Linked DNA regions of Homo sapiens: region 2 is linked to region 1. The links come from fine-mapping of genetic effects on gene expression. Tissue or cell type: putamen. Region 1 holds a variant in brackets; the other region holds the start of a gene. All regions are shown on one strand. Distances are between the middles of the regions.

Region 1 (8,338 bases):
GCCCTCCAAGCCCTCCAATAGCCATCTGAATCATGGTCCCTGGTATGAGGCCAGAGGAGCTGACCTCTAGGACAGAGGCCTGTGGTTCTCCTCACTGCAAGAGGGAGCCTAGGGCTCTGTTGAAGGAGGCTGGACAGTCTAGACCTATTCCTGAATCCACTAGTGGAAACCTTGAAGAATTGTATTCTTCAATGTCCACTTCTCTTATTTAATGGAAATAGTGTTAGTCCTTCTCTCTTCCATGATGTTTAATAATGTGCTTTCCTTGATGGAAGGAAGATACAGTCCAGTGCAGGCCCTTGTCCACACACTCAACTGGACACCTATACTGCTGTCACAAGCTCTTTGCAAGCAGCAGTGTTTATCCACAGTTTTGTATCTGTTTGCATGTGAAACTTCCCTGGGCTGTATGTCAAAATGTTGACCATGGTTATGTGTGATAACTCAGCCCTGTCCTACAGTTTAATTACTGAAAAAATAATCTGAAAGCTTAATCCTCAGCTTTAGCTTCTCTTTCTGAAAGATGGACAGATGTTGCAGGTTAAGAACACTAATGGGCCAGGCACAGTGGCTCACACCTGTAATCCCAGCACTTTGGGAGGCTGAGGCAAGTCGATCACCTGAGGCTGGGATCACCTGAGGCATGGAGAAACCCCATCTCTATTAAAAATACAAAATTAGCCGGGTGTGGTGGCGCATGCCTGTAATCCCAGCTATTTGGAAGGCTGAGGCAGGAGAATCGCTTGAACCCAGGAGGCAGAGGTTGCAGTGAGCCAAGATCGTGCCATTGTACTCCAGCCTGGGCAACAAGCGTGAAACTCCATCTCAAAAAAACAAAAAAAAGAACAGTAATGGGTGATGTCTGATAGTGCAGGAGTCCCTCTAAAGTTTCAGTACCATGTAAACGTGTCCTGTGAAGTGCAGTATTCCAAAATGTGTCATTCATCAATGAATAGTGTTTGAATGACAAGGGCGATGTTAATAGCAAAATTTTTAAATTTTATATGGAAACAATTTTGCATACACTTCTAGAAATTGTTAGTCTTATATGATTTATCCTGTTAGGTGAAGTAATTCTTGTCAGTTATTATCAGATTATTTCTTCCACAGCAGAGCTACCATAAGCATCTCAGAAAGCTCCACATCTAGAAAAGATACAGAACTAACACAAATTTATGATAAACCTAATCCAGAAAATGGAAATAAAAATGAATAAAAGTGGAACTCAGAAAGCAGATAAAATAAGAGATTCAAAGCATATTTTCTAAAATTAAAGTAGTGTAATAAAGTTATCTGCTAAAATGTTTTAAGATATTAAAGAAAGTACTTTTCTAAGAAAAGCATATATTTATTCAGGAAACCTCAATGAGCAAGGGAAAAGATAAAAACTTTATTAAATTACTTTCTCTCCAAAAAGTTTTGGAGCCAGATTATTTTATTAGCAAATTCTTTCAAATTTTAAGAAACAGCTAATTCAAATGCTGTATAAGTCATTCCCCAATATATTAAGAGATGGAAGGCTGTCTAATAATTGTAATGAAATTGGCATGATCCTAATGTCAAAACTTGACAAAGGCAGCACATAAAAAAAGAAAGCTGTACATTAGTGGTTTTCAACTGAGGGTGATTTTTGCATTCCAGGGGATATGTGGCAATGTCTGAAGACATTTTTAGTCACTACTTTGGGGGACAGGGAGGGCTGCTACTGACATCTAGTGGGTAGAGGCCAGGGATGCTGTAAACATTCTGTAAAGAACAGGACAGGACAGCCACCCACAAAAAAGAATTATCTGTCCCAAAATGTTTATAATTAAGAAACCCTATTATGGACCACTTATCATCATAGATAAGAGAACACTAAAATACCAAAAAACAAATCTAAATCAATCAGATGTTACAAGAATAATTCACCAACACCAGGGTTTATCCCCCTTTTTTTTTTTTGGAGACAGGGTCTTGTCTTGTCACCCAGGCTGGAGTAATGGTATGAACACAGCTCACTGCATCCTTGACCTCCCAAGCTCAAGGGATCCTCCCACCTCAGCCTCCCAACTAGCTGGGACTACAGGCATGCACCACCACATTTGGCTCATTTTTTGTAGAGATGGGAATCTCACCATATTGCTCAGACTGGTCCTGAACTCCTGAGCTCAAGCAATCCACCCGCCTTGGCCTCCCAAAGTGTTGGGATTACAGGTGTGAGCCGTTGCACCTGGCCTATCCCATTTTTAATGTTAGAAAGTCTATCCATCATATCAAATAAAAAAGACCATCAAAAAGCCTCAGTAGATCTTGAATAGGCATTTGATAAAATTTCATGCTATAATAAATTCTTGTAAACCTAAAATAGAAGGATCCACAGACTGAATATTTAGAAAGGGAAAAAACCTATTTCAAACCAATAATTCATATTAACTTTGAAATATCAGAGGGATTCTCATTAATATCAGAACATGATTGCCTTTAGAAACGTTAATAATTTACATTGTTATGGAAATTTACCCATCAAAGTAATTACTTATATAAAACAGAAATAAGACATACAACTCTTAGAGAAGAGGAGGCTTTAAACTGTCATTATTTGAAGACCATGTGCATACTAGAAAATGCAAGATAATACATTTTTAGTAAATTTTATTTAGAAAACATAGCAAAGTGGCTTATTAGATATTAAATACAATTTCCTGGTGCCAAAAATAACCAATTACAAAATATAACAGGAAAAACATCCCTTTCACAATTTCAGCAAACAAAAATACATTTGAAGTAACCCTAACAAAAAGCATGTGTAATGTATATCATAAAAACTAAAAAACTTTGCCAAAAAATCCAGAAGACATAAATAAATGGGAAAATATACCACATCTCCAAATGGAAAGTCTAAATATCATAAAAGTATCAGTTCTCCCAGATTAATTTGTAGATTTCATATACTATTTATCAAAAACTCAACATAGTTTTTTGGGAAGAGGACTTTAAATAATGTTTAAGCTCATAAATACAAACATGCATACATACATAAATTAAGAGATAATTTTTTTAAAGAGGGTATAAGCATGGCTTAAACACAACTAATTTGCACTTCTTTGGACAAATACCATTGCATTAGTATCAGTTTTCTATGCCTTTCAGAGTGATAAGATACTGTGGCTCAAAGACAATGGAAAGTAACCCAGAAGACTAGACAGAATACTCAGTAATCTTTTTGTTTGTTTGTTTGTTTGCCTCCCATCAAAATCTTTCACAATTTTTTGCAGATAAATTCAAAATAAAACAAGATCTTTATACCCTCTCAAATTGCAAAGAATGTTTAAATTACTAAAGCCTACTATTGGGCTTCATGATATTAAAAAATTAATAGCAATCTAAAGGGCCATCAAATGAGTAGTTAAATAAATTTTAATGTAATACATTCATGTTCTACAATACAATAGAATCCTTTAAACTCATGTTTTCAAAGAGTATGACACAAGAAGTGCTAACAAAGTGTTAAATGAAAAAAGCAGGCTTAATACTGCTTAGTGAATTTGTTCTTAATTTTAAGAAAAAACACATAAAATGAAAAATACTGATGGGAAAAAGTATAACTCAATTGTGGATATTTGCTTAGTGTTTTTTTTTTTTTTTTTTTGCTGGAGTGCAGTGGTGCAATCATAGCTCACTGCAGCCTCAGTGGGTTCAAGTGATCCTCTCACTCAGCCTCTTAAGTAGCTGGGACTACAGGTGTGCACCACCATGCCTGGCTACATTTTGTTGTTGTTGTTTATTTTCGTAGAGACGAGGTCTCACTTTGTTGCCCAGGGTGGTCTCAAACTTCTGGGGCCTAAGCTATCCTCCAGTCTCAGCCTCCCAAAGTGCTGGTATTATAGGTGTGAGCCACTGTGCCTAGCCTGGATATTTGTATATTTGTGAAATTATGAGATATTTTATTTTCTTTTCTTTTTAACTCTTTCCTTTCTTCTCGCCTTTTATGGCATCTCCTCCTCCCTTGCGACCCTCTTTCTTTGAAGATCCTTTTTACTGAGACAGGGTCTCACTGTCACCCAGGCTGGAGTGCAGTGGCACAGTCTTGGCTCCCTGCAGTCTTGACCTCCCTGGCTCAAGCGATCCTCCCACCTCAGCCTCCCAAAGTGCTGAGATTACATGTGTGAGCCACTGCACCCAGCCTGAAGATCCTTCTATTTGCCAAATCTTAGGATACGGAACAAACAGATACTGACCCATGTGGCAGCCAGTCAAGTGGGGAGTGTGGGGACAAATCATCCTTTATTTT[C/T]GTTTCTTCCACCACTGGGCTTGGGACTGCCTGGAGCGGGCAGTTCTGACTGAGCTGAGGGAACTCTTAAAATCCTGCATTTTAATGAAGAAATCCCAGTTGTCCACTGGAGGCCGAGAGCCGGCCAGCTCCCTGTTGTACTGTTGTTTTATGGTTTACCTGGGCCAGACCAGGGGGCATAGTCTGTCGGGTGTCTCTTCTTCTACAGAACCTAAAGGAGCTGGTGCTGGAGGCGGTGGTGGTGGCTTTGGTGGAGGCGGCGGATTTGGCGGAGGAGGTGGTGGCGGAGGCGGTGGAAGTTTTGGAGGGGGCGGACCTCCAGGTCTGGGAGGATTGTTCCAGGCTGGAATGCCGAAGCTGAGATCCACGGCCAACAGGGATAATGGTAAGGAGAGTTTCCCTGTCTCTGAGTGACTGAAGACAAGGCAGAGTTTGGCAGTTTGGAGGCTGGTCATAGCCTCTAAGGCTCTTCGCCCTTATTAAAATATTGTACATTGTTTTAAATATTACCACTGTTTTATAAGAGACTCAATTTAGGCTTTATTATTATTATTAACCAGGATCAGACAGCTACACAGAACTATGAAATTTTCACCCAGTGTCTTTGGGGGTAACCTGTACATTTTTTTTTTTTTACTTTTCTAAAGGGTTAGCTGGAGTGGGAAGAAAAGGGAGGAGCAAATAGAACTTGCTGGCCCTGGAAATCTGCCTGGTGACCTGACAGATTCAGCTTTCTTTGTGAGGTAGCCCAGCTGTCTAGTAGAGTAAATACTTGTGAGCCGCTTTTCAAACACGATGGAGCACATCTTGTGGAATATGATTACAAATCTCACTAAATCTGAAAAAGTGTTTTGCATGACAGATATTTGGTATTTCAGTGCCAGTGGTTCTCAGGAGTCTCTGCAGGGAGCCATGGACATGAGTCCTTCAGGATTGTCTATGAACCTGATGGTAGAAAAAAACTGAACTTGCTCATGAATGCCTAGATAAAAAACTTTGCAGAGGGCATGAGGCTCTCTCCCAGCTACTACAGAAACTCAAGAAATTTTACCATAAAACTGCTTTTGTAATGTTGATCATGTTATAATAATTTTCATTTTTAGACCTTTTATAAGATGTCCCCTGGGAAAGAATGAAACTCTCACATTTACATGAATATGGAATCACTGAATCCTCAGGGTTAGCCTACTATTTTATCACTGAATGGTCCAAATCTAGAGAGAAACTCAGTCACATGAGAGGTTCTATCTTGCCAGACCACCATTTAAATTTGAATTTAAATTTATTTAAAACTCACCAAAAGGATTTAAGGCAGCTGATAAATGTATACATTTAGTACTTTAACAACAGGTGAAGAAATTAAGGCAAAAGACAAAGAAAAATAAAATAATAAAATGGGCCAGGCATGGTGGCTCACACCTATAATTCCAGCACTTTCACAGGTCAAGGCAGGCAGATGGCTGAAGCCCAAAAATTCAAGAACAGCCTGGGCAACATGGCAAAATCCTGTCTCTACTAAAAAAAAACAAAAAGTTAGTGGGCATGGTGGCTCTTGCCTGTAGTCGCAGCTACCCAGGAGGCGGAGGTGGGAGGATTGCCTGAGCCCAGGAAGTTGAAGCTGCAATGAGCCGTGATTGCACCACTGCACTCCAGCCTGGGCAACAGAGGAGGCACTGTCTCAAAAAAAAAAAAAAAAAGAAGAAGAAAGTTCTCTCTTAAGTTCATGATACTCCACTGTATACATCTGTCCAAATGCTTCTTCCTGTGCCTTAGATAAAATCGGAACCCCTTCTGTCCTGCAGGGCTCCTTGTGACTAACCCCTGCTGGCCACTCAGGCTCCACTTCCCATGGATCTCTCCCATTCTCACTGTGCCCCGGGCACATGGGCCCGTTTTTGAACTTGAAGCTCTTTCCCACCTCAGGGCCTCTGCACCTGCTGGCCAACCCTGCCCAAAGTGCTGGTCTTCCTCATCTTTCCGTGGCTGACTCCTTCTTGTCAGGCCTCAGCTCACATGTCACATTCTCAGAAGAGCTGTCCCCAGCCACTCCATGTACCCTGGCCTCTCCAAGCACTCTTGATCTCATCGGCCTATTTTAGTGTCTTTTTAGTACATATAATTATCTGAAAGTATTTATTTCCTGGTTTATTGTTTATCTCCCCCCACAAGAATGTAAACTACAGGAATGCAGAATCTTTTCTATTCTGTTTACTCCTCTGTCTCTAGTCTCTAGATTAATGGCAGGCGCATAGCAAGTGCTCAAAATTATTTGGTACACTTATTAACTCATAAATGGGTAGATTTTTTTTTTTTTTTTCAGAATTACCTTGAGTTCCAAGAGATTCTGGGATGGTGGTTTGAAATTTTCCATCTCTTTGGTTCCCCCTTTAGTTTCTCCCTTGTTGAACCAGAGCAGTTATGGGATTATTCTGTCCTGCCAATACTGAAGCAGAGGTTGACGTGGTACCAAAAAAAAGTTGTGTAGTTGCCTGCTTCTTTGTAGATGAATTCCATCCACTGGTGTCAACTCTTACAATTAAACTTTACTGATGGTTCTTTTTCCTTTCTTAGTTTTTTCTTATTGCAGTCATAACTCTTTTCTTATAATTTCCCCTTACAGTTTTCCACTTTTTTTGGGGCATTTCTCTTCATAGGGACTAGATAAGCCCTCACATTTGGAGATTTACATTGGGATAATTAATTTTTTCACCTAAGACAGCTGACTTAGTTTCAAAACTGAGAGGTACAAGGGCTGGGAGACAGAGATGGTGATGAGGAAAAATGAAAATCATGATTCTACCAATGCCATCTTGTTCTTGTCCTCTCATAATGAATAGGCATCTCACCAGAACTCTCGCCCACTTCATCCTGGCTCTTGCCTATACATAATGCTAAGAGATATTTGCAGAATCCTTTTGAAAGCTCATAGGCTGTAGAAGTTGGGACTCGCAGGTAAATAGAGCTATGGTCGATTTTCTGCTCCCAAGAAGGACCAACAAAACCCAATTTATATAAATAATAGTTTCCTGTATTTTATAGCCCTCTGAGGAAGGGACTTCCAGTCACTGGGAACAGACTCTAGCTCTCTGATTTCTTCAGGGTTCCTGATTTCCTAACTGATGTTTGTTTTCCTGTTCTTCAGATTCTGGAGGAAGCCGACCACCATTGTTGCCACCGGGAGGAAGATCCACATCTGCGAAACCCTTTTCACCCCCAAGTGGCCCAGGGAGGTTTCCTGTGCCTTCTCCAGGCCACAGAAGTGGTCCCCCAGAGCCTCAGAGGAACCGAATGCCGCCCCCAAGGCCCGACGTGGGCTCAAAGCCTGATAGCATTCCTCCTCCAGTACCTAGTACTCCAAGACCCATTCAATCAAGTCCGCACAACCGGGGGTCCCCACCAGTGCCCGGAGGCCCCAGGCAGCCCAGCCCCGGGCCCACTCCTCCCCCTTTCCCTGGAAACCGCGGCACTGCTTTGGGAGGAGGCTCAATACGTCAGTCCCCCTTGAGCTCCTCCTCGCCCTTCTCCAACCGGCCTCCCCTGCCGCCTACCCCCAGCAGGGCCTTGGATGACAAACCCCCTCCACCACCTCCTCCAGTGGGCAACAGGCCCTCCATCCACAGGGAAGCGGTTCCCCCTCCTCCTCCTCAGAACAACAAGCCTCCAGTGCCTTCCACTCCGCGGCCTTCGGCCTCCTCACAGGCCCCACCTCCGCCGCCACCTCCCAGCAGGCCCGGGCCGCCTCCTCTGCCTCCAAGTTCCAGCGGCAATGACGAAACCCCAAGACTCCCACAGCGGAATCTGTCCCTCAGTTCGTCCACGCCCCCGTTACCTTCGCCAGGACGTTCAGGTCCTCTTCCTCCCCCGCCCAGTGAGAGACCCCCACCTCCAGTGAGGGACCCGCCAGGCCGATCAGGTATGACAAGACGTGGAGTGAGTTGCTTCCAAAACCCAGCCTGCCCAAATGTACCAATAATCCTGTCAGTCAAGATAGTCTAACAAAAGCAGGCATAAGTAAACTCAGACTGCTTTGTGCTTTTAAGTGGCACACGACACGTGTGATCGTGA
Region 2 (8,338 bases), 22 kb before region 1:
CTGCACTGCATAAGACTCTGCCTGCACTGCCAGGCCCACTGATGGGCCAAGGGTTTTACCTGCTGACCTTTTCTCTGGAAAATTTCCCTTTAACAGCTTCTCCCAAGAAGGCTTAAGTCTAGTCTTGGCATTTGTTATTTACCATTTCAGGGGGAACAGTCTTAAGCTTTTAAAGGAACATTATGCTGGGCAGCGTGGTGGTTCACACCTATAATCCCAGCACTTTGGGAGGCTGAGGTGGACAGATCACTTGAGGCCAGGAGTTGGAGACCAGCCTGGCCAACATGGCGAAACCCCGTCTCTACTAAAAATACAAAAAAAAAATTAGCCAGGCGTGGTGGTGCACGACTGTAGTCCCAGCTAGGGAGGCCAAGACATGAGAATCGCTTGAACCTGGGAAGTGAAGATTGCAATGAACCAAGGTCATGCCACTGCACTCCAGCCTGGGTGACAGAGTACGACTCTGTCTCAAAAAAAAAAAAAAAAAAAAAAAAAAAAAAGGAACATTATGCTGTAGTAGAATTCGTAAGAAACATTGATTTTCTTTTCCATTCAACAAACACTATTTTCAAACACCTGCATTAGATGCTGAAGCAACAGCAGTCAAACACCTGCATTAGATGCTGAAGCAACAGCAGAAACAAGATGGACAAGGTCCCTGCTCTCATAGAGCTTGAATTCTAGTGGAGAGAAACATACAAGTAAATAAACAGATAAATAAGACAGTGTCAAGCGGTGACGCATGCTATGCATAAAAGAAAACAGCAGAAATGGGTCATGAGGGAGAGCATTTTTGCTGACATTTGAAGAATAAAAAGGAACAAAAAGATGAGTGTACCAGGCGTGAGTACCAGGCTTGCAAGTAAAAGGCCTGAAGATGCAAATGAGCTTGGTGCATTTAAGGAACAGAAAGATTTGGAAGGTAAATTAGCAAGGCAGAATATTACTTGAGATGAAGGCAGAGAGTTAAGGAGGGGCCAGATCTCGTGGGTCCCTGTGGACCTAAGAGTTTGGACTTTTTAAGTGAAATGAGAAGTCATTGGAGGGTTTTAAGCAGGGGAGGAACATTATCTAATTTATGTCCTAACATGCATAGTAGACACCTGATAAATGTGTCCAAAGTTGACTGTAGGAATAGACTCAAACTACACAACTACTCCCTTGCATGTCTTGGGGACTGCAGCCTTCTAGGTGACATACTCCCTTCTAAGTGAGCTTTTCCTAAGGTAGGGGTCTCCAACCAGTCTATGGCCCCTTAGGAACCAGGCCACACAGCAGGAAGTGAGCAGCTGGTGAGCAAGTGTTCCCTCCTGAGCTCTGCCTCCTATCAGATCAGCTGCGCATTAGATTCTCAGAGGAGCAAGAATCCTAAAGTGAACTGTGCATGCGAGCTCCTTATGAGAATCTAATGCCTGATGATCTGAGTTGGAGCAGTTTCATCCTGAAACCATCCCCACCCCCTGCCCCCACTCCGTGGAAAAATTATCTTCCACAAAACCAGTCCCTGGTGCCAAAAAGGTTAGGGACCACTCCCCTAAGGGATGGAAATAGCCATGAATGGTATGTGTACTGAGAGAGAGAGAGAGAGAGAGAGATAGCTAGAGAGAGAGAGAGAGAGAGTGTGTGTGTGTGTGTTTGGGGTGTCTTACTTAGAGAACTTCAAAATAATTCTGAAAATACGTAGAGAAATTGTCATATCGCCCATGTTCTCTTTTTAGACCCAACTATAATTAGACTTCCCCAAAGATTCACTCAGGCATTTACTTAATAGTTGATCAAGTTTTCTGTTTTCCTGAGGGTTTGTATCGCGGGAAGTGGCTGATAGCTGTAGGCCTCCACCTCTGTCCAGCCCCATGCCTGCAGGTATTTATTTGTGACCTAAGTCACGGGTGGACACCAGGCCAGAGTTAGACAAGAGGCGGTCCCTGCCTTCAAGGGGCTCCAGGCAAAGCAGAGGACTCTCAGTCACTTATTCTTGGGTACTCCACTCCAGGAACTGTGCCCATGGCCTGGCATCATGAATCTGCTCATGCAATTAGACTCCTATCTCAGGGAATTTTGAGTTTAAAAGATCCTTAGACATCATCTGTCCCAGTACTCCCCAGTAGGAGCACTTCTGGTATTTTGGGTGGGACTGTCATAAGCACCATAGGAAATTTCCCATTCCTGGCCCCACCCACTGAATGCTACAGGCCCCTGCCCCCACCATTCCCACTCACTGCTCACCACCCCCAACAGCTACCTGAGTTGAAAATTACTCATCTAGCCCAGTTCCATCACTTTACAGGTAAGGCAATGTTAGACAACATACGTTCTTTTCATGCCTCTGGCCTCTGATCCTAGCAGAATCAGGACCCAACATTCAGATTTTACAATGAAGCTAGTTTCTGAAATATGCCTCTCTTTTAAATTCTTTGACTGTTACTGTTTTCTCAGAGTTATATACTATGTGTTGCATATGTAAGTCTGAACCTTTAAGATGGGTTAAGAAAAAATTATGAGCATTTTCAGATCGTTCTATACATAACTCAAGGTTTTGATAAAATGTTTTCTACATGTATTCCATTGCCATCCACCTCTTGAGTTCTTTAATAATGAGAAATCTGACTTTCTTCCTTCCACCCTCTTTATCTCTATGCTTTTGTCAAGCATCTTCTAGGAGAGTTACTGTTATCCCATTAAGTGTGGGGGACAGAAACATTTGGCATAGAAAGCTATGGATCTGCAGCTGACTTAAGCTGTATATTATTACCCTGACTTGGGCACCAAAATCACGTTTCAAAACTCATTTGCTGCCAAGTATGGTAGCTCAAGCCTGTAATCCCAGCAATCTGGGAAGCTAAGATGGAAGGATCACTTTGAAGCTAGGAGTGCAAGACCAGGCTGGGCAACAAAGCAAGATCCCATCTCTACCAAATATAAAAATAAAATAAATTAGCCAGGTGCAGTGGCATATGCCTGTAGTCTCAGCTACTCAGGAGGCTGAGGCTGGAGGATTGCTCGAACCCAGGAGGTCAGGGCCACAGGGAGCTATGATTACGCCACTGCACTCCAGCCTAAGTGACAGCAAGACTGTCTCTCTAAAAAAAAAGAAATAAATAAAACAAAACCAAAAAAAGAACCTCATTTGCCTTCATACACCTGACCTGCTCTCTTTACCTGCATTTGTAACTTTCTCCCCACACACTTGAATGCCCTGTAAATGAGAAGAAGCCCTTAGCCTAATGAAGCGATAAGGTAAGGTAGGTAAGAGCTTTTCTTTCTTGAGTGACTCTTTTCCCTATTACTCAATGGAATAGTCAGTATTTACAGTGATACTTTCAAATATAATTTTCCTAAAGGAATCTCAAGTTCCATGAACAGTTATTTTTGTGGGAATATCTAGAATAAAGTTGGACTCTTCACTGAGTGGAGGTGCTCATCTCCTCTTGTCACTGTACCAAATAGCTGTGTATTACACCTTGTGGGGAGGAGAAACATTTAATTTTTTTTAATTTAGGTTTTTTTTCTTGCTTGCTTCTTAAGCAAAACCAATCTAGTTTCTTTTTCTGCAGCAAAGGAGGAAGGAACAACAAACAACAAATTAATCAGACAGGAAGCGAATAACCACAGAAGGACGTCTGCCTCTGACTCAGTATGTCACATTTAACAAGAGGCCAGAGCTTGTCCAAAATGGCTGTCCAAAAACGACCCCACACTTGCGTTAGAAGATGATACCTTTTTCAGGGACAGTTTTCTCTCTTGGCTCCTGTCCCGCTGGCCCTCTGTCTGCCTGTGTCCCTGACCATGGCTCCCTGCAGTACCCTTTAACGGTAAGAAAAATTATATTCAAACTAAGTTTATTTCATTTATCAGCTACAGGGAAGAACTAAATGGCTTTTAATGGACCATAGTATGTCAAGATAAAGTTGTTTAATTTTTCTGTAGAGCACCATGTGAGCTATTCCTGTTGCCCAGAATGCTAGTTTCACCACTATGGTGATTGTGAATGATTCATAACTTATGCTTTGAGCCAAAATGTAAGCAAGATTTTCAATAGAATTTTTTTGACCACTGGACAAGTTTGGATCCACAGGAATTTATTTTCCCATTTAAATTGGGGGCTTATGTCGGTAAATATATCCTTTTGGTGTATGATACAGTTGTCCACACAACTGCCTTTGAATCTTTGGTGTGGCCAGCAACAATAAGTGCTTTAAAGTACAAGGAGCCATTGGAAGCTTCAAACGAAAATACCATGGAACTAAGCTGTTGCAGTTCTGTTGCTGCCAATGTGCTATTTAAGTTCAAAACTCAAACTAAACCATTTCTAAGCAGAGTCTTTTATAATACGATTTGTCTTTTAGAATAAGTCTATTCCTGTTATAACAGTGTGTGCACAATTACTATCGCAAATCAAATTCTACAGCATTAGTTATAACTTTATGTTTAATATGATTAATGTTTTGGCATAAAATATTGTGATTTTTAAAATTTCAAGCCATCTACTCAGAGGCTTATAGAGCAGAACTAAGGAAACTTTTTACATTAAAAAACTTTTTTCTAGAATATGTAGGAAGAAACAATTTGACTTATGTTCCTTTCTCCCCGTGAAGAAATATAAAATAAAGCTTTAAAAAACTCAGAAGGCACATATAACTTTAGTCACTAAGTACAAGTTTTTTGTTTTTTTTGTTTTTGTATTTTTAGTAGAGACAGGGTTTCATCATGTTGGTCAGGCTGGTCTCAAACTCCTGACCTCAAGTGATCTGCCCGCCTCGGCCTCCCAAAGTGCTGGGATTACAGGCATACAAGTTATTTTAAATAATTTAATGGCATAACTAGTATATGTAGTAGAGAATGGAGAGGTGGTAAATGAAAAGGCTACTGAAAGATTCTAACTAAGCAAAGTAAGACAGCTTGGTAGAGAGAAAGATGAAAGACTGGGGAAAGAATAGGACAGGACAGTGAGAAAGGAAGATGAGAAACTGGGAAAAGGTTTTGAGGTTGATCTGTGTGGAAATCATACTCTTACAATTCACTTGGACTACAGTGCTATGTGTTAACTTTATCAAGCTTTGTTCTTCTGTACTGGAATATCATCATGTCAAAACTCTTCCTTTTATCAGTCTAAGGTCATTAAATGACTTACCTGAAAGTCATTTTTCACTAAGTCAGGTTTTCTATTGCTCTTTGAAAAGTTTATTCATGGGCTATTTGCTCATAGCGCTTCAGCTACTCTAATATCTAACCTTTTAAGGGTTACACATACTCTGGGTGGACTGAAATATTCAGAGAACTCCCTGTGGTGAAAATTAGTTCCTGGGATCGAGCAGCAACTTCAGATCTGATCAAATTCTAAATCTGGCCTGTAGGCTGGAAGTTCCCCAGCCTACCTAAAATATGAGATGAAGTGATACTGAATTCCTGGACCCTTTAAGTGTTATGACCTTTTGAAGCCTTCTTAACATTTTATGAACACACATCATTTACTTTGGAAGTTTCTGGCTGTTTAAATTATGATATATTTCTGCTTTAAGGTTTGACTCATTTTGTCCAAATTGTTAAACATGTGCTTGTTGTTGAAGAAAGCATTTCTCCTGGACTTCCATAAATACCTCTGTCTGTCCTGAAAATTAAAACTGTAAAAAAATACTAGAATAAGGAATGCCTTAATCAGTATGCTTTTCTGAGAAATTTGAAATGCACTTTATACACATCTCCCTTCACCATTCACTTGTAATATGGAAGTTTGCATGGGTGTACACACATAGGCTGATTTAAATCAGCTCATGGTTTCTCTTTCTCGTGGTTAAATAGGGGGAAAGACTGTGATATTTACTGACCACTTATTTTGTGTTACGTTCTTCACCTTTGCTTATTTTATTTTTTGAAAATGGCTAATACTTATTAAGCACTCCTTCATTTAACTCTTGAATAACCCTACTAAGTAGGTGCTATTATTTTGAAAACCGGACTTACATAAGCTAAGTAATTTACCCAAGGCCACCTAACAACTAAATGTGGAGGAAGTTATCTGAATTGTAAGAGCTTTTTTTCACAAGTGCAGCTTGGAAGCAACATTATAAATTGTATGATTTCTGTTTTTCTTTTTCTTTTCTGTTTTTTTTTTTTTTTTTTTTGAGACAGGGTTTTGCTCTGTCATCCACACTGGAGTGCAATGGCATGATCACAGCTCACTGCACCCTCAAACTCCTGGACTCAAGCAGTCCTCCCACCTCAGCCTCCCAAGTAGCTGGAACTACAGATGTGTGCCACCATGCCCAGTTAATTATATATATATATATATATATATATATATATTTTTTTTTTTTTTTTTTTTTTGTAGAGATGAGGGTCCCACTATGTTTGCCCAGGATGGTCTCAAACTCTTGGGCTCAAGCTATCTTCCCACCCTGGCCTCCCAGAGTGCTGGGATTATAGTCATGAGCTACGACACCCAGCCAGTATGATTTCTTGAGGTGCTTTTCCGGCCTTGGGAATCTGAGATTACAAATGTTTTGCTTTAAATGTCACAGCAACAGTAAATATCTTTAAAACTAACAATCTCAAGTAAGATATTTTCCTTTTTAAGTCTTTTCACTTCTTCAGAGGTAAACTTGGTGACACTTCTGCTTATATCATAAAGCTGTACTTTCAATGATAAAATGAATACAGTATATATCAAGTGTGCTGACATATATGCTGTGTGTGTATGTGTGTGTGAGAGAGAGAGAGAGAGAAAGAGAGAGAGAGAAACAGTGGCACATCTTAATCCTCTGGTAGAACTAAATGTGGTGATAGCGATTTAGGCAGATTTTAGCTTGGAGATTTGAACCCCTTAAAGAGATGGGAAGTATGGGAGAAAACCTGCTACTCTTTAATTATATGGATAAAATAAAAATGTTTCCTTTCCCTTTCCTTCAGTTAAATAATGACAGGTAGGCGTGTCATTCAGCTCACCTTCATTTTCTCACTATTAAAAGGGTCTTCGATGTCTGTGAATTTGTATTAATTTTAAAATTAAATGTGCACAATAGTGGATTAAAAAATAATTTTACTTCATAGCAACCTTTATTTCCCTAGCAGTACTCTTGCAGTAAAATTGTGTCCAAGCTCCTAGCCAGTCTTAGTGATGTTCGAGATGCTTCAAAATGTCTTCTTTGAAAAACACCTTTCCTACTCCCCGCCAAAATAAATCACCTCCTTATCTAAAAGAACTATAAAAGAAGCATTTCTAGGTTCAGCAGACTTAAATTGACATTTACCATTAAGAAGACAACCTAATCAGACGTTGCTGAAGTATTGTTTTTCAATGATGATTGACTGAGAAAAGAGCAGTACATTTTGAGAAATGAGGGATTCTGTGTATGGCAAGCGTGTGCTCCACATTCAGCTCAAATGGAGACTAACAATGCATAAGAACCAACTGGGTGAGGCTGCTGATTTGCTAATAAAGCTGTTTTCCTCTTCTCTGCCTTTTGCTTCCTCTGGAGTCCAGCTGCCTTTTCTGTTTCCCCTCTTGTATCCATGGCTTATTGCTCTGAGCAAGGACCTTCAGCTTGGAGAGAGGAAGAGTAGCAATAATAGAAACGAACCTTTCTGCAAAGGTATTGAAAGTTTCTAAAATGGCCAGACCACATGCTGGGGGGAAGGGATGGTAGAGCTGTTGCAGTGACTCGCGTCATAAAATAGAAACTCCAGGCAACTGCAGCTGTGAAAAGATTGTGTTAAAGAAACAGGATGACTGTGGTTTACTGCGAGCATCAATTTTCCTGTTGAGCATTTTTTACAGGAAGTTGAAGAACAAAGCCAAATTCATCTTAATTAGTTCTAATGGTTTTCAGATCTTAAATACATCCAGCTAAGTTTGCATCATGGAGGAGTATCTAAAGAATAGAATCAAGAATAATTGAGTAGGAATCCCAAAACGACATGCTTTTTAAAATTCACCGTCTTAGCAGCAATTTGAGTTTGCTCGATGATTTTATTTTTGCAGGGTGACTTGGAGTGGATTCACTGTCTTTGTAATGAATGCCCTTGCAGTTATTTTTTATGGTTGTAATAACTCAATATGAATTTAAAAACCTTTTCTCAGGAAAACACTTTTGTGTTACATGTATTATAAATTTTGTTCTGTTAATATTTTTTTGTCAAACAATTGTGTGTATATGTGTATGTGTGACACAGAGAGAGAGAGGGAGAGAGAGAGAGATGTACATGTACTTATAAGCTGGAAGGACATGTATCAAAATAACAAAGAGTTACCTCTGGTTATTACCCCCAACCCTTTTTCATATAAAAATTAATTATTATTCAGTGCTTCCTTTAGTGGTTAAATACAACTTCAGTGCTTTTT

Which allele goes with the higher level. Positions count from the first base shown, and alleles are read on the strand shown. Sizes are in standard deviations (SD) of each study's normalised expression.
In carriers of allele T in region 1, the expression in putamen of the gene that starts at base 3,609 in region 2 tends to be lower than with C alone (small effect, 0.36 SD a copy in GTEx).

Evidence for each region.
Region 2: it holds the start of WIPF1, and the variant in region 1 is fine-mapped to the expression of WIPF1 in putamen (GTEx, PIP 0.93).

Annotation. Positions count from the first base shown.
Region 1 is chr2:174,571,524-174,579,861 of GRCh38, reverse strand. It overlaps WIPF1 (WAS/WASL interacting protein family member 1), which reads left to right. Exons shown (of 8, transcript NM_001375834.1): 4 at 4,482-4,658; 5 at 7,416-8,186. WIPF1-AS1 (WIPF1 and CHRNA1 antisense RNA 1) reads right to left here and starts at 4,635. Exons shown (of 2, transcript NR_199010.1): 1 at 4,433-4,635. RefSeq lists a silencer at 1,678-1,787. The variant C/T (reference allele first, on the strand shown) is at 4,274.
Region 2 is chr2:174,593,075-174,601,412 of GRCh38, reverse strand. WIPF1 (WAS/WASL interacting protein family member 1) reads left to right here and starts at 3,609. Exons shown (of 8, transcript NM_001375834.1): 1 at 3,609-3,812. RefSeq lists an enhancer at 3,407-3,586.